Regions from separate parts of the Homo sapiens genome. Here region 2 is linked to region 1. The links come from fine-mapping of genetic effects on gene expression. A gene starts in region 1. The other region holds a variant in brackets. All regions are shown on one strand. Distances are between the middles of the regions.

The links. PIP is the estimated chance that this variant, and not a neighbour inherited with it, causes the effect.
Region 2: its variant is fine-mapped to the expression of CAMK4 in testis (GTEx, PIP above 0.99).

Annotation. Positions count from the first base shown.
Region 1 is chr5:111,217,755-111,229,538 of GRCh38, reverse strand. CAMK4 (calcium/calmodulin dependent protein kinase IV) reads right to left here and starts at 5,155. Exons shown (of 11, transcript NM_001744.6): 1 at 4,895-5,155. The coding sequence starts at 5,055. RefSeq lists enhancers at 4,917-4,966, 5,927-6,026 and a silencer at 5,077-5,566.
Region 2 is chr5:111,483,233-111,495,163 of GRCh38, reverse strand. It overlaps CAMK4 (calcium/calmodulin dependent protein kinase IV), which reads right to left. Exons shown (of 11, transcript NM_001744.6): 11 at 278-11,138. The coding sequence ends at 10,698. Among named protein-coding and RNA genes, the nearest start is that of STARD4-AS1, 23 kb to the left of the region's middle. The variant TCTA/A (reference allele first, on the strand shown) is at 5,553.

The DNA of each region.
Region 1 (11,784 bases):
TTCAGCAGCCATGCTGTGGACTGAATTGTGTCCCCTCAAAATTCACATGTTGAAGCCTTATTCCAACTCCAATATGATGGTATTTATAGGTGGGGCTTTTGGAAGGTAATTATGTTTAGTATGAGGTTATGCAGCTAAACCCCTCATCGTGGGATCAGTGCACTTGTAAGAAGAGGCACCAGAGAGCTTGGTTTCTTTCTCTCTTCCCCTCTCTTTCTCTCTTCCTCTCTGCCTTGTGACGACACAGCGAGAAGGCAGCCATCTGCAAAACAGAGAGTCCTAACTGAGGAAATGCATTGGCTGGGACCCTGATCTTGGACTTCCTAGCCTCCAGAGCTGTGAGAAATGCATATTTATTGTTTAAGCCACCCAGTCTAAGACATCTTGTTATATCAACCAGAGCCAAGAGCACTAAGACAAGCCAAGAACATTGGCTGAAGCCCTTCTCTTAGAAAATGCACGCTTTCGTGTTTCCTTATAGAAAGCATTTGCTCACTGTGACCTGGAGCCAGAATACATGTTACCATGTAGAATATACCACTTCTCAGTCTCTGAGTTCCTTCCCAACACAGCCCCTGGCACTCTTAGCCAGTTCAAATTACTGTGTGCCCAGCAGACCTTAGGGAGACACCAGAGTTTTTCCAAAATGTTTAGAAGGGGAAAAATCAGTAATGACCTGGAGGCAAAGATAGGAGCCTTTTTCTCTACAGGGCTGTGCCAAAAGGATACCACCCAATGTTGCCAATTGGTCTGCAGGGAATTTCTTTAAAAGACTCTGCCTCATAGCTTAATCTATCACACACAGATTTATGGCCTACAACAGCACTTTTCAAACTGAATCACAACACATTAGTGGGATGTGAAATCACATGGGTTCAGCCAAGTTTTTTTAACAAAATAGATGAAATCAAACAGCATATAATAGAAAATATTAAAGTGCATTGCTGGTAATAAGAATAAACACTGTTTTATGAAATTGTTTCTGTTTTATACACACACACACACACACACACACACACACACACACACCCCTTACTATGGAAATCTATTTGGTTCCTAAACAATAATACATATAGCAAGGGATCCTATATAATTAGTTTAATTGAGTTGACAAATAAATGTATTTAAAATTATAAATGTATACACATAATTGTGTTTACATAAATGTGACACATAAATGTATTATTTAAAATTACATTGCAGTGGGGAGGAGTATGCAAAGTGCCTAGCCTAAAGAAACTACAGTAAGTGGAATGGGAACTAAATTTAAAGAAAAAAAAGGTTCCAAAATAGTTTAACACATTCTTCTCTTGTTCTAATTATCTTTCATTTGGTTTGGTTTCCTTGGATTTGTATGTCTGGGAATACATCTGGTTTTCTTATCATCTTTTCTTTCAACATGGAACAACAGTGAGAAACTAAAGGTGAGACAACTGAAAACAGGACATGGGTTTGCATGCACAGACGAAATCTGCACCACCAAGCAGGCTGGGCCATTTCCTGTCATTCCATGTGCCAAACCACTGGGCGGGATCTGGACCAGAGGCAGCTCCCTTCTCCCTCAGAAAAGCCTTTAAAATGCCAGTTTCTCAAATCACTGGGCAAAAGACCAACTGCTCTCGAGGATCTGGAGCCCTGAATAGGATCATGGCCAATTCGTATTTTTAAGTAGAGTTGAATGTGTGTGTGTCATGATTTTTGTAAACTTTTTGAAAAACTCTATGAACAAAACAGTGTCTTCAAATGTGATTTTAGGAAAATTACTTTGCCTGATACTTTTAATTCACCCGTAACCCCTATACTCTATGCCCTCCCTGCCAAAAGAAAGTGAGCACATCTGTCTTGGTCTCAATGGCTCCATGTGGATCAGTGCTGCCAGCACCTGCCTTCGCCAGCACTATCCAGGGGCTTCAGGTGGATATAGCCTTGGGAGTTTAGCTCCCCTTGAGTTCCCAAACACATCCTCAGGGTGTATCGCCCCAGTGGTCACCGTCCAATCTTCTTGCAATCAGGAGTCACTACTTTACAACAGACAACTGTAATGGAGGAGCCAACAAATCACTAATTCTGGTGGAGACTGTCTACTTTCTAGAGCTAACCACAACAGCAACACGTAACACCAGAAGCACTGTTCTCTTAGTATATTAATGACAACTGCATTACTAATGAATTAGAGTCACACTAGCAGGTGGATTTGGTCCAAAGCTGAGAGTAAAGGCTTGAAACTGATGACCTGAGTTCAACTTGATCTCTAGTGTAGGAAGAAAGAAGATTTTAGTCACTCAGCCAATATCTACGATCATCATTCTGTTGCATTCTCTGGCTCTATCGATTCTTAATAATTATATCTAGAATAGTAGTTGATGTTTTAAGTTTATTTACTTAAAAATTTCTGATAATGAAAATGATACTTCTCAAAGTCTCAGCCAGAGTAAGCATGCACCCCACGAATGCTGCCATGTACAGAAAACTTACCTAACAATACGCTTTACTGCTGACAAACAGAGCCTAAGTAAGACATTTTAGCTTTTATTGTTCCTCAATGTAGTTTAACTCTGTGATCTTTTACAGTAATCATAAGACTAGATAATAGAGCGAGAATCTTAGCAATGTATAGACAGAGGGTCTCCAATAGGATGGGCTTAACTTACAATTTTTCGACTTTTATGATGGTGGGAAAGTGATAGCATTCAGTAGAAATCGTACTTCAAATTTTGATCTTTTCCTGAACTATACATGGTAGGATACTCTCTCTGATGCTGGGCACCGGCCATTAGCCACAGCTCCCAGTTAACCACAGGAGGGTAAACAACCGGAACTCTAGAGTGTTCTCTGTTGTCAGTGTTTTTTGAATATTGTGTTTTGTGTTTCATATCTCACCATGTCTACAAAATCCCATCTGTACACGGTATTTAACAGTTATTATAAAATAGGCTTTATGTTAGATGATTTTGCCCAAATGTAGGCTAATATTAAGTGTTCTGAGCATGTTTCAGGTAGGCTAGGCTAAGCTACAACGTTTGTTAGCACAGGTGTAGTAAATGCATTTTCAACTTCTGATATTTTCAACTACAGTGGGCTTATTGGGACATAACACCATCATAAGTTGAGAAGCTTCTGTATAACCGATTAATATTTGTCCTCCAAAATTTACTGCAACACGTAATTCTGAACTGAAAAATAAAAAACCCAAACTTCAAATTTCTCAGTTTTTTCCTATGCAGGCTACCATCTCATAGGGGTATACAATTGGCAGTTTATTTTTTTCCCATTTTTCAAATTAAAGTGAATTTCTTGAGTTTCATGACGATGAAGCTTATTCATAAAGACAACGTGTGTGGATAAGTCAGCCTATTTGAGGCATCTAGGGTTAATGTTACTCTGAAAACAGATGTGCTACTGGGACAGTCCCTGCAGCAGCATCAGGCACTTCCTCTACTACACAGTAGTTTATAAAACACCCAGTAAACAATTTTAAGTAGATCATCCCTTTACTCAGAGGTTTACATGGTTCCACTGTCACGCATCATACAATTAATAACAGGCATGTTTTGGACCTTACAAAAATCGACATCATTGTCCTTTCATTTCCACCTATATATATAATAGATCTTCAGATGAATACTGAAAAACTTGATCAAAAATGGATGTTTATGTATACATTATTCAGTGCTCAAATACTTCAAAACATTTTTAACAGTGACAAATCACTGAATTTTCATTCAGAAGTTTGCCTATTTTACACATCTATATTCAATGAGCCTTCAATAGTACTAGCAAAGTGGGGGGAGAGTGGGCAGTGATCATTACATCTTCCCACTAAATACCAACATCCAGAATCCTGCTCTGGATCCTCCAATGACTTGAAAAAATAAAAAGGCTGTTAGCAATACTATTTCCAGCAAAAAGAGAATGAAAAATGAAATTGCAAAGGAGTAGTAAGTACAGAAGCTGCAACTTGTCAACCGTTGAAATTACATCTTCAGATTCCCTATACTAAAGAGCCTGGATCTAAAATAAGTGTTGAAAATAAATCTCCTTACCTATGGATAACAGAGAGAAAAGACAAAAAAAAAGGAAGTAAGGGAAAGAAAACTATAATTTTCAATGGATACAAATACGAAAGCATATGGAATCATGCAGAAGGCCAAACTGCTACCTGTTTGGATCTTCAGAGGAGGGATAGGGGACATATCTGCAATCCTAGGGAGATGGTCTGTTGCATATATAATTTAAATAAATCACTCCAGCCCATGAAAGAAGGGAAGCAGCAGCATTCTCACTAATTACCACTGCCTGGATCCCATATGCTGCTTTCTCTTTAAAGCCACACTAGTTCATTATTCTGCCTTCAACTCTCTTAAATGATTCATTTCTCCCTTCACTCCTGAGCAGACTCTGCAGGGAAGCTAGTATTTAAGTTTAATTTCTCGTGTCACTTGCTTTGGAGAGCTTGACGAGGGGAAGGAGGAGGAATCTAACTTAATAATTCTGTCTTGATTTGGAGGGGCACCCTCCGGCCCCCACCCTAAACAATAACTAGACAAACAGGACCCTCTGGCAAGCTATAATCGTGAGCAAAGATATCAATTGGGAAAGCAGGGCCCACGTGCGGTGGGAGCTGTCACCCAAGGGAAGTGGCAGCCTGCGAGAAGGAGGGAAGGTGGGAGGGAGTCGGGCTGATCCTACAGCTGCACCGGCCTAGGCGCTCTGGTGGGGTGGGAAGGACTCGAGCCGCACCTGAATGAAGGTTAGCTCTCTCTCAAGACACTAACTAGGTAGGGAGAAATCGAAGGGCACGAAGGCAGGCTCCCGCACCCTCCGAGCCGTCGCTGCGAGAGGGACAACCCCCAGTGCACGCCGCGGGCTTCCCCAGCCGGAGCCCGCGCCTTACCGTCCCAGCTCCGACTCCACCTCGAAGAAATCGCTCAGCGCATCCCTGTTGGAGCCGTCGATCCAGTAATCCGGGACGAGGCTCGCGGTCCCCGGGGCCGCACTGGCGGTGACCGAAGAGCAGGACGAGGCGGAGCAGGAGGGCACCGTGACTTTGAGCATCTTCGCAGCGGGACTCCGGAAGCCGCCGCCGCCGCCGCCGCCGCTGCCCGAGCGAGAAGCCGGCCGCCAGCCGCCGCCTGCGAACGCAGGAGCGAGAGAGAGGCGGCGTCCTTCACGCGCGCACACGCCCACCGCCGCCGCCCGCGCTCGCAGGGACGGTGGGCGGGGAAGGGGGCGAGCCTCTGCGAGAGGGCGCGAGGGGGAACCCGGAGTCGCCGCCCGCTGGAGGGAGACTAGCTGCACCGCTGAGGAGAGAGGCTCCCTCCCCCTCGCTCCTTCCCTCCTCACCCGCCCTCCTCCCGCGCCGAGCCTTTCCCGCCGCCCTCCCTCTTTCCTTTCTCTCTCCCAGGCTGTGGCTGCCGCGGTGCCGGCTAGGGCGGCTCCGGATGCTGGAGCTTGGGGAAGGCACAAGGACCCGCGCATCATCCCACGCGCCCTCCCGCGGGGACCGGAGCTGGAGGGAGACCGTGCGCAGCGGGACGCTGCTCTGGGATGGCGGGCGCCAGGCGTACCCTGGCAGCACCTGGGTCCGGGCGGCCCCGCCGGATAGCGAGAGAGGGACCTAGGTGGTGGTGGCGCAACTCATCCCTCCTTGAGCGCGTCTCCGTGGCGAGTCCCTCCCACCTAACACCAGCTAACCAGCCATCCTCTGTCAAAGCTTATATTGGTGGCCGGGGAGGGAGTACTGTGGTCGCCGATCCCTCAGGGCTCCTGTGCCTGGACCCAGTGAGAGCTGGAGGAAAAGGAAGCGCCCAGGTCCACACTGACCTGACTCACCTTTGAGTGAAGTCTTCAGTTGGAATAAATGCTGTCGTCGCTGCTGGTGGCACTGCCTCCTCGGCACTGCTGGAGCTCCTAAAAGAGGAGATACTTGGCTGTGTCGAGTTCAATCTCAGCATCTGAAGTGGCTCAGAATTACAGTTCTAGAAGGGCCTTGTGGAAGCCAACTAGTAAACCCTCTGCCTTAAGGCAGGACCTGTCCTCATTCATGACAGGGAAGACTGCTACATGTAAAAGCCCTTTTTCTCTTCCCAAGAGATGTATCCCATGATAAGCATTCTTATGTCCTGTCCATCAGCTGTCATGGCTCTTCTTCTCAGTATTAAACATACATCACTTAAACTACCCTTGAACTTTTTTCTTTTCAGATTTCAGCAAAGACGAACAACAATTAGTCATGTTCTGATACATATCTATGACAGTTATTATACCACAACTCATTTCTGGCTAAATAGCTCCAGGCGCTTTCACCTTACTTCACAGGTGTTACTTTTGGCCTTTTTTTTTTCCTGAGTTTCCTCCAACATGCGCTAAACTCTTCCTAGTAAGTCTCCATTCCTGATAGCACCAACCATTAATATGGTCCAATATTTTAATCTAATTTATGGATTTATTATTCTTAAAAGCCTGCCTGCTATACTGGTGAACAAACAACCAAAAATATCCAATCAAGTAGTTACAGGAATGTGATTCCTAGCTGATTGGAAATTGAAAATATATATAGTCATGCATCCCTCAACCACGGTGAGAAGTTGAAGAGATGCATCCTTAGGCGATGCAGTTGTAAGAACATCATAGGGTGTACTTGTACACAACCAGATAGTATAGCTTACTACACAGCTATGCTGGATGGAATAGTCAATTGCTCCTAGGCTTCAAACCTGTACAGCATTTTACTATACTGAATACTACAGGCCAGCGGTCCCCAACCTTTTCGGCACCAGGGACCAGTTTCTTGGAAGATAATTTTTTCCACAGACAGGGGGTGGGGAAGATGGTTCTGGGATGATTCAAGTGCATTACATTTATTGTGCACTTTAATTCTATTATTATTACATTGCAATACATAGTGAAATAATTATACAACTCACCGTAATATAGAATCAGTGGAAGACCTGAGCTTGTTTTCCTACAACTAGACGGTCCTATCTGGGGGTGATGGGAGACAGTGATAGATCATCAGGCAGTAGATTCTTATAAGGAGTGCACAACCTAGATCCCTTGCATGTGCAGTTCACAATAGGGTTCATGCTCTTACGGGAATCTAATGCTACCACTGATCTGACAGGAGGCAGAGTTCAGGCAGTAATGTGGGAGATGGAGAGCCCCTGTAAATATAGATGAAGCTTTGCTTGCTTGCCTGCAGCTCACCTCCTGCTGTGTGGCCCAGTTCCTAACAGGCCACAGACCAGCCCATGGCCTGGGGGTTGGGAACTCTGCTGTAGGCAACTGTAACACAACAATAAGTATTTGTGTATTTAAACATATCTAAACATAGGAAAGGTACAATAAAAATATGGTATAAAAGGTAAAAAATGGTACACCTGTATAGGGCACTTACCATGAATGCAGCTTGCAGGACTAAAAGTTGCTCCGTGTGAGTGAGTAAGTGGTGAGTGGATATGAAGGCCTAGGACATTACACTACTTAGACTTTATACATACTGTATGCTTAGGCTACACTAAATTTATTTAGAATAGTTTCTTTCTTCAATGGTAAATTAACCTTAGTTTACTGTAACTTTTACTTTATAAACTTTTTAATGTTTTAAAACTTTTTGACTCCTTTATAGTAATGCTTAGCTGAAACACAAATACAAGGTATTTTATACAAAATATATTGTAAAGCTGCACAAAAATGTTTTCTATGTATCCTTATTCTATAAGCTTTCTTCTTTTTAAAACAACTTTTTTAACTTTTTGAACTTTGTTAAAAACTAAAACATACACACACACTAGCCTAGGCCTACACAGAGACAGGCATCGATATCATGTCTTCCGCCTCCACATCTTGTCCCACTGAAAGCTGGAAGGGCTTTAGGGGCAATGACATGCATGGAGCTGTCATCTTCTATGATGACAATGCCTTATTCTGGAATACCTCCCGAAGGACCTGCCTGAAGCTGTTTTACAGTTAACTTTTTTTATAGCTAGAGGAGAAAACTCTAAAATAACAATAAAATGTATAGTGTAGTAAATACTATACTAGTATTTACTGGTAACATAGTATAAACTAGTAACATAGTCATTTATTACCATTATAAAGTATAATGTACTATACATAATTGTATACACTATACTTTTATATGACTGGCAGCACAGTAGGTTTGTTTACAGTGGCATCACCATAAACACATGAGTAATGTATTACACTGTAAGATTAGGCTATGATGTCACTAGGTGACAGAAATTTTTCAACTCTATTAGTCTTGTGGGACCACCGTTACACATGCAGCCCATTGTTGACCAAAATGTTGTGTGACACATGACTGTACAAAAACTATTCCTCATGATAATTTTATAATGATGAGCACAAACTCAATGTACAAATGCTCTAACAAATAACAAGTATATGCAAATTCATACAAATTCACTTACATACTAGCTTGTTTGGTGAAAGACTGAAAATGCCCACGTGATGTTACTTTTCAGAGAATAGATTCACTAATCGTGTTGAAAAATCAAGTTCACAAGCAAAGCAAGATAATAAAGCTCTCTAAATTCTAGCTTTGACTCAGTAAGTTTCCCTTGGCTTGCACTGACCAGTGGACAAATGGGCATGAAATAGTTGCTAGGCCATTTTTATTCTCACTTCTTTGAGGCAAGTCCAGCAGCAGCAGCACTGCATGTAAATGCTTGTCTGTTCTTAGCAATTCTTTTACAACATAAGCCCAAAGCAAGCATGTTACATTAAAGGAGATGGTAAGCCTTTTTTCTCCTGCTACTTTAGGTAACAATGGTGCAAGAAAGCCATTTCATGGTACAGAGGTGATTATAGAATTCATTTTATATTCAGCATAATTTTAGTCATTTGACATCTATGCTTTTCATAATTGACTTTTGTAAAAATGCTATTAATTGAAGTTTAAAAACAGGATATTTTGTATAATCCATGCAGCTTACTTTCATTTGAGACATAGATAAAAATTAATAAATATTAAAATAGATGAAACAGGAATTAAATATACAAAATGTACCATTACTTCTTATCAAAACTCAACTGAAATGACCAGAAAAGGAACAGGGTTATCATCCCACAAAAAGAAAGAGAGAAGTGATGTCAACTGAATCTTGAACACGTAAACAAACAGTAACAGAGGAGTTAATAAATCAGAAACCTAGATTTGCAATGGGAAAAGCCAATAAGAAGAAATCTAATCCCTACTATAAAATCAAGACATGTTCAGAAGTTAGAGTACCAGATAGTTCTCAAGGTGAGGCATAGAACAGAGAACAAAACATTGGTTAAAAAATTTTATAAAAAGTTATTAGGCCCCTTCATCCAAATTAGAAAGGAAGAAGTCAAATTGTCCTTGCTTGCAGATGATGTGATCTTATATTTAAAAAAGCCTAAAGACTCCACCAAAAAAAAAAAAAAAAAAAAAACTATTAGAATTGATCAGTCCAGTAAAGTTGCAGGATACAAAATCAACATATGAAAACAGTAGCATTTCTGAAATAGAAAATGAAAAAGTAATCCCATTTACAATAGCTACAAATAAAACAAAATATCTACGGATAAACTTAACCAAAGAAGTGAAAGATGTCTACAATGAAAACCGTAAAACATTCATGAAAGAAATGGAAGAGGACACAAAAAAATGCAAAGATATTTTATGTTTATGGATTGGAAGAAACAATATTTTTAAAATGCCCACACCACCCGAAGCAATCTACACATTCAATGCAATGTCTATCAAAATGCCAATGACATTCTTCACAGAAATAGGAAAAATAATGCTAAAATTTATGTAAAACCACAAAAGAAGCCAAATAGACAAAGCAATCCTGAGGGGAGGCCAGGGCAGGGGGAAGCTGGAGGTGTCATATTACCTGGTTTCAAATTATAATACAAAGGTAAAGTAACCAAAAGAGCATGATACTGGCATCAAAACGAATATATAGGCCAGTAGGACAGAAGAAAGCACCGAGAAATAAATTCATGCATTTACAGTCAAATCATTTTTGAGAAAGGCACCCAGAACATACATTAGGGAAAGGACAGTCTCTTCAATAAATAGTGCTTGGAAAACTGGATGTCCATTTGCAGAAGACTGAATCTAGACCCTCTCTCTCACGATACAAAAATCAAGTCAAAGTGGATTAAATACTTCAATCTAATACCTGAAACTATGAAACTACTAGAAGAGAATATTGGGGAAACACTCCATTTCATAGGTCTGGGAAAGATTTCTTGAGTAAGGTCTCAAAAGAACAGGCAACCAAAGCAAAATGGACAAATTGAATCACATCGAGCTAAAGTTTCTGCACACAGCAAAGGAAACAATCAAAAAAACTGAAGAGACAACCCACAGAATGGGAGAAAATATTTGCGAACTATCCATCTGACAAGGGTTTAATAACCAGAATATATAAGAAACTCAAACAACTCTACAGGAAAAAAAATCAGATTGAAAAATGGGCAAAAGATCTCAACAGACATTTCTCAAAAGAAACATACAAATAGCCAACAACTATATAAAGAAATTTCTATTCATCAAAGAAATGCAAATCAAAACAAGGAAATATCTCACCCCTGTCTTTCTGATAAATGACTTTTATCAGAAAATCACCTTAGAGTGAAACCTACCATTAAACAGGCTCAGTGACCCAAAGCTTCTAATGAGATACAATCTTTCTAATAAATGACTTTTATCAGAAAGACAGGCAATAATGAATGTTGGTGAGAATGTGGAGAAAAGGGAACCCTCGTACACTGTTGGTGGGAATATAAATTAGTACAGTCACTGTGAAGAACAGAATGGAGGTTCCTCAAAACAATAAATAAATTAAAAATAGAACTAACATGTGGTCCACAATCCCACTGCTAAGTATATATCCAAAAGAAAGGAAATCAGTATATCAAAGATACATCTGCACTCTCATATTTATAGCAGCCATGATAAAGAATCAACCTGAGTATCCATCAGTGGATGAATGGATAAAGAAAATGTAGTATGTATACACAAGGAAATATTATTCAGCCATAAAAAGAATGAAATCTTGTCATTTGCAACAACACAGATGAAACTGGAGGACATTAAGTGAAATAAGCCAGGCACAGAAAGACAAATATTGCATGTTCTCACTCATATGTGGAAGCTAAGAAAAATATTGAACTCTTAGAGATAGAGAGTAGAATGATGGCTATCAGAGGACGGGAAGGGTAATAGCAAGGAGGGGATAAATAGGGGATAGTTAATGAGCACAAAAATACAGTTAGATACAGGGAATAAGATCTAATGTTCAGTAGCATAATAGGGCAACTATAGTTAACAGTAACTTATTACATATTTCAATATAACTAAGAGTGGAATTGGAATGTTTCTAACAACAAGGAAGTGATAAATGCTTGAAGGGATGGATATTCCAGTTACCCTGATTTGATCACTGCACACTGTATGTTTGTATAAAAATATCACATGTATCCCATAAATAAGTGCAAATATTATGTATTCATAACAAATTCTTTTTTTAAATTAAAGCTTTTAGGCTTCCTGGATTACCTCTTCTAACAATTCACAGCCAAAAAACACTCCTACCAAAGCCTAGAAGAAGATAATATATTTAATTTTGTAAATGTTGAACAAGGAACGAAATATGTTTTAGGTCAGAAGATACAGCTGAGGCCATATTGAAAAGAGAGATTAAGTGAAACTCTGCACGATAAGTAGCGAGACCCCTGAGGGCACACGCTCCCAGAATGTTGAGAAATAGGTTTATGTCTATT
Region 2 (11,931 bases), 270 kb before region 1:
CTCTTGGGCATAATAGCTCTCTTTAATAAAGTGAGCTTATTGGATTAAATGATTACTAATATCCTCTTTTAACTCTAGTGATTTTATAATTTTACTCAACAGAAAATATGTGAGCACTCAGTGTTAAAAAAAAGGCTATGAAACTCAAAGTATAATTTTATCTGAGAGAATGGGAAAACACTCAAGGAGTGATTCAACTGCACATTTCAGGTGTAAGAAAAATGTCCATGGTGTCTCTCTTGAATTGTGGTAACATTTGAAATCACAGAATGCAAAGTTTTGGTGGTTTCTTAAATGATTTATTATCGTATTCTACATGCCAACTGCTTTACATTTCCCAGCAGCAAGATATAGGCTTCTTTGGGCATGTTCTGACATGTCTGTCTGAGTGAACTTACACCAAGTAACATTGGCCCTCAGGTCAAATTTCTACAATTAGTCTTCCAACACCCATTTTTTATAATGTCACGTACTCTTCAAGTTCCTAGAAAACACCCCCCAACCCCCCCCAAAATTTACATATTTAATTACTGAATTGGGTTATCCAACCTGAATCCAAGAAGAAGCCACAGCTCTCATGTGGTCTGCCTCAGGCTTTGGGCAGCTGAGACAGCCCATGACTGTTGTGTCCCATCTGTAAGAAGTAGAAACTCACTGGTCAGTCACCACCATTGAAGAATACTGTAGCTCTACAACAGCAAATGGGCATGATTTTGATGAATTCTCTACAAACATTTTCTGTATGTACATTTATGCCCAGGCCAGACTTAATACATTTACCTAAAAATATTGTAATATATCTTTGTATTAAGTAGTCAATAGCACCATATTGTCAGGTTTTAAAAATGAAGTGTTCACAGCTCCATTTTCAGTGCTCTTCAAATTAGAAGTTGGGAAGGTAGCCTATAATCTTGGTTGTGTAAACTTAAAATATTTATACTTTGTCCTCCAAATCTTACATGCTCTTGTGTTTGGCTACTGACTTGCAGCCTAAACTATTGGAGATGTAGCTTTCCTGTATGCAGTGCTGTTCCATTAATCTAATCCTCTATGCTGCTATTGAGCTGCTTATATCCTTTTAGTCCAGAAAGCTTTCAGCAACCCAGGAATAAAAATTTCTCCTTTAGGAAAGACTAGAAAACACATCCAGATAATGTCACATAAGCCTGAAAAGCCCAAGTAGGAAGTTTTCCTTTCTCAATGTCTGCTAACTTACGATTTTTGTAACCTCACAGTAATTCTACTTCTCTTCCATCATTCAAATGACAGTCAATCTTGCTCCCTATCTTCCTTCATTTGTCTTCAGGAATAATGCCGCCATTCACTAATCACAGGCATTATCTGAAATAAAGAGGCAAGACAACTAAAAGTACACATACTAAATGTCTAAATGTCTCCCAAGTTTCTTGAAGATGGATGTAAAAATACTGCCTGCAATAAATGATATCAAAAGGAACTTACAAAACAGTATGTAAAGGGACAAAAGGGAGAGATGAAAAAGGACTTGACAGGAGCAGGTTGATGTTTGGAGAAACAAGTTCTGATGGTTTTAAATTTTGTTGCCTGAGACTTAGCTTCCTACAGGTTGTCTTTTAAAATCTAAACTTTCAGGTAGAATTCAATCAGAAATCCTGGGGGATTGCCTATTCAGGTCAAATAACTGAAAAGGTTGAAAAAATGAGGTCAGCAATAACCTTGATTCGGTCCTCCACTGGCAACATTTTAGGAAGTACGTGATTTTTTGGAGTCATGAGACATTTTTCAGAAATTGGAGTCTTGGAAAACTTGAAATTATCTGTCATACTATCATTTACTCTGTTTTGTCAGTGGAGACCTGGCCAATTCAGTTTTTGCTTTCAGTGACTGAGGCTTTGCTTTAACCTGGTGACTCCCAAAAATATCTTCGATGTGTTTGATGATTTTTATTTGGCTTAGAAGCACAGCAGATGAGCCAAGTATGTCAGGCTAGATGCTCTGAGGAAAGGCTGCACATGGACCTACCCAGAGTAAGGAAGGAGTAAGGAAGTCTAATTCAATTTTGCACGAGATGAGATTCTGTTGCACACTGGCAACACTTCCCTGTGTATTTCAGCCTTTCACATTTAGTATTCTTCCTTCACCTCTGCCTTTCATTTTTCCACTCTATGATCAGGCCGGTTCTCAGCCAGACATGCCCCCTACTTCTTCCCTACCTGCAAAGATTCACCCATCTTTCACATACAGCCTGTGTTTCCATAAAGCTTTCCTTCATCATTCCTGGCAAAAGGGAGCTTTTCCCTCTTTCCATTCCTAGGGCTTATCATCTGCCTAAATGCAGCATAGGTTATATATGTACAGGTTGTATCTATAAGGTTGGCTTTTCTCTCCAACTACAAAGCTCACTCCTGGAGGATAGCATTGGATTTAATTCATCTTTGACTCCTCCATGGCATATAATAGTTTCTCAGTGAAAGTTCACAGGGAAAATTGTTCCTGGAGGGGGCTGCTCCTGGGAAGCTTCAAAATTAGAAAATCACTTCCTTACAATGTGATTAGAATGTAGGCCTAATATCCCCTAAACTATGTTGTTTAGTTTCTGGGAGAAACATTAGCTATTGACTTCATTCATTTCTAAAGTATTTGTCCATCAATGATCGTCTTCAAACTGAGCAATCAAGAAGATGGGCAGGGGAGAATGTGGAATCCTAATCTACATTTTGTTATCTTTCCCCTCACTCATTCCAGTAAAGTCTCTGCTACACATAATGATGCGGACTGGCAGAAGATTGATATCTTTTGTTCTGAGTTCTACAGCGAGTGTATCCTAGTGGCTATATTATATTATTGATTGCTGTAATAATAGAGCAATAATATTGCTGTATATTATTTAGAGTTATAATTTTAGGTACTCCTAATAAATTGATATTGCACTTTCTACTAAATATTTCATTTGTGACCTTTTGGTTACAGATGTTGAAAGTCAAACGGAAACACAAAGGTCATGAATGCCTATGTTTTTCTCCATATCTCGGTCACTAGCTTCCCTTAAGGTGGATATTTTGGAATGAACAATTTCTCTGTGACAGAAATAGACTAAGACAAGGGCCCTTCTTGGATTTCTAAATATGTAAGGAAAGCAAACGAAAGCATTTACTCAAGGCCCTCTCTTTTCAAAGAAATAAAATACGTAACACTCAGGAAAGCGTGGGGATTAGAAAATGGCTTTCTTACATAAAAGAGCTGGCTGTTTGCGTATTCCCTGAGCTATTGTTGAGAAAGTCATTGTCATATAATGCCACAAAATAAAACATAATATTTCCTAAAATGATTAATGAAAATTCAATTGATATAAATTACTTCAGAATATTATGAGAGATTCAGAACCATAGGGATCTTCTTATTTCTTAGCTTAGTAAGTAACAGCTGTAGATTGACTTAAATGTGAGCAAATGCCAGTGAAAGATGTCATTTACATAATTTTAAATGTAAGGATCAAATTTCTAAAACATGCTCAAAGTGCTAGAAATCTTTTTAATTCTACTCTCAACCAACTCAATTCATACTCTAAATTTCTTTTCTTCAGGAGTGATGCAATTTTGCGTTTTTAGTTCTGTAGGAAAATTTCACTAAGTTGTATCTATCTCCAGCACAATTATTGTTGTGAGAGCATCTGCAACATAAAACAAAATTTTCCTAACTTTCTCAGAAGCAAATGGGAATACGAACCTTAAGCTAAGGAGAAAAAAAAAAAAACAAACTGGAATATAGGAATCTGTATTCCTGCAAGTCACCAAAAAGGCATTGGGGTGCCATGAAAACCCAGGGTCATTGTTTTACTGTAAGGGTCCAGATACACATTTTAGGCTTTGCAGTCCATATGGTCTCTGTTGAAAGTACTCAACTCTGCCTTGACAACATAAAAGCAGCCACAAACAATATGTACATAAATGAGCATGCCTGTGTTCCAATAAAAATGGGGCTTTGGTAGATTTGCTCTGTGAATCATTGGTTGCTTGAGTTCTGAAAAATTTTTGGAGATTTGAGTTCAGTTCTTGGGGAATTATGTGGAAATTACTCTTTAAAAAAATATGCACATAAGTTTTAATGTGTGTATCTCAAAGACGAGAGATAAAATGAATGACTGACATTCAAGTAAGAGCATAAATAACTAATTTGTTTACTAATAATCTTTTACTGATACCTTTAGTTCATTGGGCATAAGAAATCACCTAAACCCCAACTCAGCTGTACCCACTCACTAAACTCACAAGACATTGAAAAATGTTGAAAGAAACACAGCAACATCTGTTGGACATGGAATGGACTACTATTACTATGTTTAGGCCTAACTCCTTAATAAATGGATATGTTACAACGTTCTTTTGGCTTATAGAGGACTTTTAAAATATTACTGAGACTTAAGGGTGCCGTAAAAAGAAAAACAAAATTACAAATTATGAATATGCTATTTGTTCTCTACGCTGCTGCATATTAACTGTATTGTAGGTATATAAAATAGGTCAGGTTAAAAGGAGGCAGTATGAGATGATAGTTTTCAATTTATGGTCATATATATATATTTTTTTTTGACGGAGTTTCGCTCTTGTTGTCCAGGCTGGAGTGCAGTGGCATGATCTTGGCTCACTGCAACCTCTGCCTCCCGGGTTCAAGAGATTCTCCTGCCTCAGCCTCCTGAGTAGCTGAGATTACAGGAGCGTGCCACCATGCCCAGCTAATTTTTGTATTAGGGGTTTCACCACGTTGGCCAGGCTGGTCTCAAACTCCTGACCTCAGGTGATCTGCCAACCTCGGCCTCCCAAAGTGTTGGGATTACAGGCATGAACTATCACGCCCAGCCTATAGTTATGCTTAACTGTACCTTTACAAAACAGATGAACTGCTCTACATCTATCAAGGAAAGGACAAACCTAGTAACTTTTTATCATTCACAAACTGTCAAAGTTGAGAGAGAGCTCAGGGAAAACAACCGCTTTCAAAAATTAGAATGCAAGGTCTTGTATTTAAGTAGCCTGAAATAATCTTTTAAATGGAAAATAAAGATTAATCAGAGTGAAAATTAAATGTTATTTTGACACAATGAATCACAAGCAACGATTAAATGTATATATTCTGTATCTATATGTTTTCCAGGTCAATCTTCAAAATGAGCTGAAAACAACTGTTTAGAATAGTGTGATTTTGCAGTCTTTGCATTGCTGTTTAGAGTATCAAACAAAATTCTGGGCCACAGATACGCTGCATTTCTCCAGTCTGGGATGCTCCTGTCAGGGCTTTAGAGATGACCATAGGGATGGAACAAAACACTGATCTGGGATAAGGCATAGCAAACCAAGACAAGAAAAGAGTAACCCACTGGTGGAATCTCATTTTTCCATTACTGACCAATGACAATATACCAATATTCAAATTGTATCACTTTCAATCAGAGGATGAGAAGAGGTTTTCTCCCACTTGCCTCATTTGAGCTCAACCAGGTAGATGCCTGGAGTCTTCTCTAGAGCAACATCTGATTCCTTTGAAGGAGTAAGACAGTTCACTTTCTCGGCAAGGCT[TCTA/A]TTTTGCCCTGGTGGACCTCTGAACCAGACAACAGGGAACAGACTGAGTTCTTGAAGGAAGTTAGTATCACACAACCCAATCGTCTTGAGTACATCACAGAGCATTTATGAAAGTTGGAATTTTAAATAACCAAACAAATTAATCAAGTTTGTTATTGCTCTCCAAGATAAGTATAGACATGGCCAAGCTTTATGAGCTGAGATTATATTATCTGATCTCAGGTAATAGCCACAAGGAGTAATAATGACAAAATTTGCTCTTAATATATTGGTCAAAATATAGAAAGAGGAAATACTGAACTTGGTTACTGTGGGTGGTTTGCTGATATCTCTCCAGTGGTCTCTCTCCTTTTTTTTCTTATTTGCCAAGGAGACAAAAATTCACCCTGAGTGTGTCAGGGGAATAAAAGGACTTTGAAAAATTTTATAGGAAATTATTGGGTACATTTCTGTTTATCATGTGGTTATGAATATTGTAATACCAATAGTGAAATAACATGTACACAATTTTTTTAAATGCAGACACACATAACATCTAACCATTAAACAATGTTCAACCAGTAAATGCTCAACTACTAGCAATGACCCTGATCAGGAACATATCAGTGATGAACATAAGGAAATCAGAATATGGACTAATAGGCAGGAATTACAAGGAAATTACAAATCCTTTTACATAGGTTACTATCTGGAAATTTTGCACCATCTAAAGTAAATCTAGACAACATGACTGAATACTTTGCAATGACAAATAAGTGACATAATGGCACTATGATTAATTGACTCTGCTATGTATATTTGTTAATTATACATTGAGTCAACCATCAAGAAAATGCTAGTGCTGATTCACTTTGTTGACCTTTTTTTAAAAAAATTTGCTTTGCAAAAACAATTCTAAAACAAAATAAATGGCTTACTAAGTTTATCCTTTGCCTTTTCTGGCATTTACTTTTCTTTTTCCAACTTGAAATACAACCAGCTGCTTCTGTGCAATAAAAACTGATTTATGAAACAAAATGGCTCTCTCCAAATCTTCAGCCTGTAGGCAACCCACCATCAGTTACCATGCATGTGAAACAGGACATAGGGATTGCTAAACATTCTGAATTACAAAATATGTTTAAAATACTATGAAATTGAAGTCACAGTAAAAATTGTTCCTTTCTTTTTAAGTCTTCCACTAAAAATGACTATAGAACCTTGAGGATTATTCTAAAATCAGTATGTAAAAAATTTTCAAAAGTCTTTTGTTAAATCCATGTGTAATGGCAGTGTTGATTAAACCCTTCTAAGGAAATCTTAAAAAATGCCAGCTAATGGTCATATTCCCACTTTGAGGATAACTGGCATGATATCACCATCATTACACAATCTTCATCATGCAGATTTGGTATGGTTCATTAGATTTCCAGAAAGACATATTGCCTGTGATACAAGGATGGCATGAAGCTTAATCCAGGCCTCAAAATCAGATTCTATGTGCAGTTCTTCCTGAATGAAGACACATAGTTGGCTGAGAGTAGATTTTGGTAAGCAAGAATGCTATTGGCATCATGGCAGTACTCAGGAGACTCTAGGCTGTAGTCAAGACTCCAGGGCCCATCAGGAATCAGAGGGATTGGTCAGTAGATAATTTAGTAATGCCCGTTCTTTGAAGTCATGTTAGGAATCATTTCTCCTCTGAAGTAAATGAATGGGCAGGAGTGGTCAATAAGCTTTTACTCAGTGTGTAACATTTCTGAAACACTTTCTTTGTGGCCTCCCACCAGCTCCTCAATGTGAAAACTGAGGCCACTTAAATCTAAGCATAGAACTTCAAGTGTCACTTTGCTTAAAATAAAAAGTACTCTAGACTAGTGCTGTCTAATATGGTAGCCACTAGCCACATGTGACTATTGAGCACTTGATGTCCCAAAGGCCTAACATACACTCTTGATTTTGAAAACAGTATAAAAATAAAGAATTCAAAATATCACATTAAATTTTAATATTGACTATATATCGATAGAATAATTTGGATGAATTGGATTAAAAATACTATACTTTCATCTATTTTTCTTAAAATGTGACTAATAGAAAATCTTAAATGACATGTGCTTGCATTATATTTATATAATGCACTTGTTCTGGACAATTAACTTCTACCACGATATTATTCTAATTTTTACCTATTTATGTGTCCTGGGACAAGTGAAATTACAGTTTGAGAAAAAATACTGGATTCCAATTAGACTTTGTTAATGGGGGAAATAATTCAAGACTGTCCTTCATGGTTATAAAAAAAAACCTAGTTTATGCTATGTAGCTGAACTTATCTCAAAATAAAAACCCATAATGTAATGTGATAAGTGTTAGCTCTAAAATGTAAAATGTAATTTATTGTTTGCTGAAATTTGAATTCTTTTGCTTTGTGACTATATTGCCAATTAGGAGTGATGTTATGAAGTATTTTGTGAAATTAAATCTCCATTTGTCTACTATTATTTAGCTAAGTAATCTTTGAGATAGACAATACATTCCATTTTAACAAGCAATATAAACATTGGCTGTTCTTTCAAAAATGTTAACATAATTATCCTAACTTAGGATGTATGTATATGAAATCTTTGAATAATTTGACTGAAATGACCAACATTTTTGAAAGTTTGATTTGTTTCCTACTGAAACAATGAAATTAGTCACTATATAGTCATTATCAGAATCTTATCTTTAACATGAGTCAAAATTTAAAACTCCCATTGATTTTTTTAAAAATGTAGTTTATGGGTTTAAAAAGATAGAGGGAATTATCAACTCGAGTACTCACATGGAGGAATGGTAATATGCACTCATTTAAATGAGTAAATTCTAAAATACACATTGGGCATGGTATTTGCAACGTTGTTTCTATAGTTCTCAGGGCCAAACAATGCAGTCCGCCCTACTCTAGTGTTGAAATAATGTAACAACTGCCCTTGGAACAATATGGGGGTGGGCAGGGAGGAATGATGTGTTCTGATCTTTCAGCTAAGCGCCAAGTGCCACTTTCTAAAAAGACCCCCTTCCCTCTCTTTGCTCTTCCAACACGTGTGTGTGTGTGTGTGTGTGTGTGTGTGTGTGTGTGTGTGTTTCAGTCTCATGGTAAAAAGTACAACAGGAAATTGATCCTCTTAAATGGAAATCTTAATGCTTAACAAAGAAGACATTCTTAAAGGTTAAAAATAGCGAGCCCCTTATAATGGACAACATGGGAATTCTGAGAGGGAATAATTAAATGAGGAAGGAAGGAAAGAGGGAATAAGAAAAGTGCTCTCTACTAGATAGTACAAATAAAACAAAACAAAAAATAATCTTCTGAGCCCAGATGATGTGCTTCTTCAGGGGCTCCATATCAGTGACCTGTCAGATTCTTAAACTATGAAAGATAAGAAGTCCTACCTTGTTTTCTTCCCATGAGAACAGTAGTAGAGAGAGATTTGTGATTGAAAAGAAGAATGTCTACTGAGGTCCAACAGCCTCTACAAACTGGAGCTTTAGTTTCGTTTTCTAATTTAATAGTTTTGAGGGAGAGCCAACATAATTTAAGATCTCTTTTTTAACAAGGATTTTTATGTGATAGTCATTTTTATTGTCTTTATTTGGTCTCTGAAAATAATTATTTTTTAAAATGAATTCTTTTTTAAAATTGAGAAAACCCACCAAAAATGTGACACATAATTAATCTGATAAAATATTCATTTCAACTCAAACTAGAAATAAATTGGAGATAGTGCAATTTCTATAAGGGGAAAGTGTTTCTATGAAAGTCAAAGAGAAATTAAACTTATTCTGGGAAAAATCATAATAAAATATCAGGTCTAATGTTCCAGCTTTTTAAGAGTCTGATTTGAAATCAGTATTTTTCTTTATTTTTGTTTTTGTTTGTTTTTTAAGGTAAATAAATTGCATTGTGCTAAATTTATTGGCAGCCACATTCTCAACACTACATTGTAAAATGTGGGTACTTTCATTCCAAATACGAGAAAAAGACATACTAGCTTTTCATAAATAACTTTAGTTTATAAGTGATATGTGTAGATAACCATCAATTGGATAAAAAAAGAGCTTTGATAAACAATAATGTTTTCTTACTCTATTAAAGTCAATAATGAATAATCTTAAAATGGAATATTATTCCTACTCTATGAAGACATTTTGGCACTAACCTGTGAAATAGAATTTTCTAAATATTTGCAACTTGGTAATTATAGAGTTTATCCATTAAAATGTTCTTATCTGTAAAGTTGTATAAATTCATGAGTAAATACAATTTTATCTGGAAAATGAAAAGGAATCAATCTTATCTTCATCAGTTTAAGTACAGTCTTACCTTCTTTTCTTCCCTGTTTATTACACCCTAAGCTTTGTCTATCAGAAAGTCATCTTATTGGAGAGCAGGTGAAGGAAAGAATGGAACTCAGCGTGAGTTTGTAAATTACTTCCTCCAGGGTTGTAAAATGGCAGAATCTTAGAACATTTTGGTTATTATTAATATAGTGTATATAAATAAGAATAAAATAAAGCATTCTCCACACAGGCTTTAGGGACATATGGCTTCATGGCCTTTAAGGATACTTCAATTTCTTACCATTGCAAGTGGATTTTTTTTTGCACATATGTACAACTATCATCTATAAGCATCTCCTTGTAAACAGTTTGAACACATCAATGATAAAAAGTAAAATGTTGTAAAAGTTATGGGAACATGTCTTTTAGCACTACCTAGTATTAGCTAAGCAGTAGTTCAAAGGAATTACTGCCTTGTGAAGAAATCCAAAGGATGTAGGATGGCTAGATTTTCAAAGCAAAAACAATTTGCTACTATTCACTTCAAATATGTGCCACTGGTTGCTGAAAATGTATGCTTTTAAGTGTTACGTTGTGTTAACTTGCAAGATTTAACTCATCGGTATTAGGTATCCATTACATGCCATAGAAGACACTATTATTTTCATAAAGCAGTCACATGCATTGAAGTTAGAATTACCAACTGGTATATATGTATGTTTTTTGCACCTCAAAAACAGAATCACTATAGTACATATCATGCTTCCACACCTTTCTTGCTGAAGGACAAAGTACATAAAATGCCGGTGTTTGGCTTCCAGATCTGAAGGAAGCTGTTTAGTACTCTGGCAGGATCACATCTTGCTGTGGAACTTCAAAACCCACAGCAGAGCTTCCTTGCCCTTCTCTGGGAGCTGCTGCCTCCTCCACAGTCTTCAGCTTCTCCTCTGCTAGGCCCTCCTCTAGTTCCAGGTCAGCCACCTTTATCCCATCCTCCACTGCCTTGGGCACCATTTTGGGGGCCTCTTCAGCATTTATATCTGCACCTTTAACTTTCTCTAAGGCTTGCACCTTCATCAGCTCAGCCTGTGCCCCCTTAACTGCGGCTTGGGCCCCATCGCCTTGAATTTTCTCTCCTTCTGGAATAGCTTTCATGTCCTCGTTGCCATCTTGGATTGGAGAAGGGTCTCGGCTAGCCTTGTGGCTCTCCTGGATGCTGCCATGGCTGCTGCTGGCACTTCCCAGGCGCGAAGAGGCCACCACAGCCTTCACCGCTGCCTGATTGGAAACAGAAGAGTGTCAAGTGTTACCTCTGCTTTAACACCCCACATCAGAGCTCAACCCCAGCTTTGCTTTTAGGGATTCCGTTTTATAGGTTAGCGTTAAAGTTTTCAAAGTACCTTATTCCTAGATTGTTTGCCAAAAGAAAATTTGGAGAATGAACAGTAAAACCTCTTTCATCTCAAATTAAATACAAATTAGTGTATTTAATCATCTGGACAACTGAAAGCCTGAATACATGTGTTTACCTGTGGCTAACCAATTTTTGAAAATTTTAATCTGTGTTTCCCGGTGTATTTGTTTTACGGAACACTAGTTCTGTGGACGTTAGTAGTTTTTACCACATGGATGTCATCATGGGGATATAAGAGTTCCGTGATCAAACTAGCTGGAGAAATCCTAGGTGAAGTCAATACTATTTAATTTGGGGTATTTATAATTAATTTGACCATGGAGCCTTTCAGATTTATTTAGTCTGTATCAGACCGTAAGCAATGGCTGCATAGGACCCTAATTCTGACCCCCAGCTGCTCTCTGAGATCCTCTACTTACATAGCTAGTCCTAAACACAGTTATGTAATAGAAAAGCTCCTAATCTCTATTCGATAGGTACTATATAAAATGATATATTTAGTTAAGTAATTTATTATATCACTTAAATTTTTAAATTTTTGTCAAGTAATTATTTATCTATATTAGGAAATATAGTTTCAAAAATTGTTTACCAAGTTTTACATATTCTGAAAGAAAACAACTTTCTGAATAAATATCAGTTTTCCCTGAACAATGC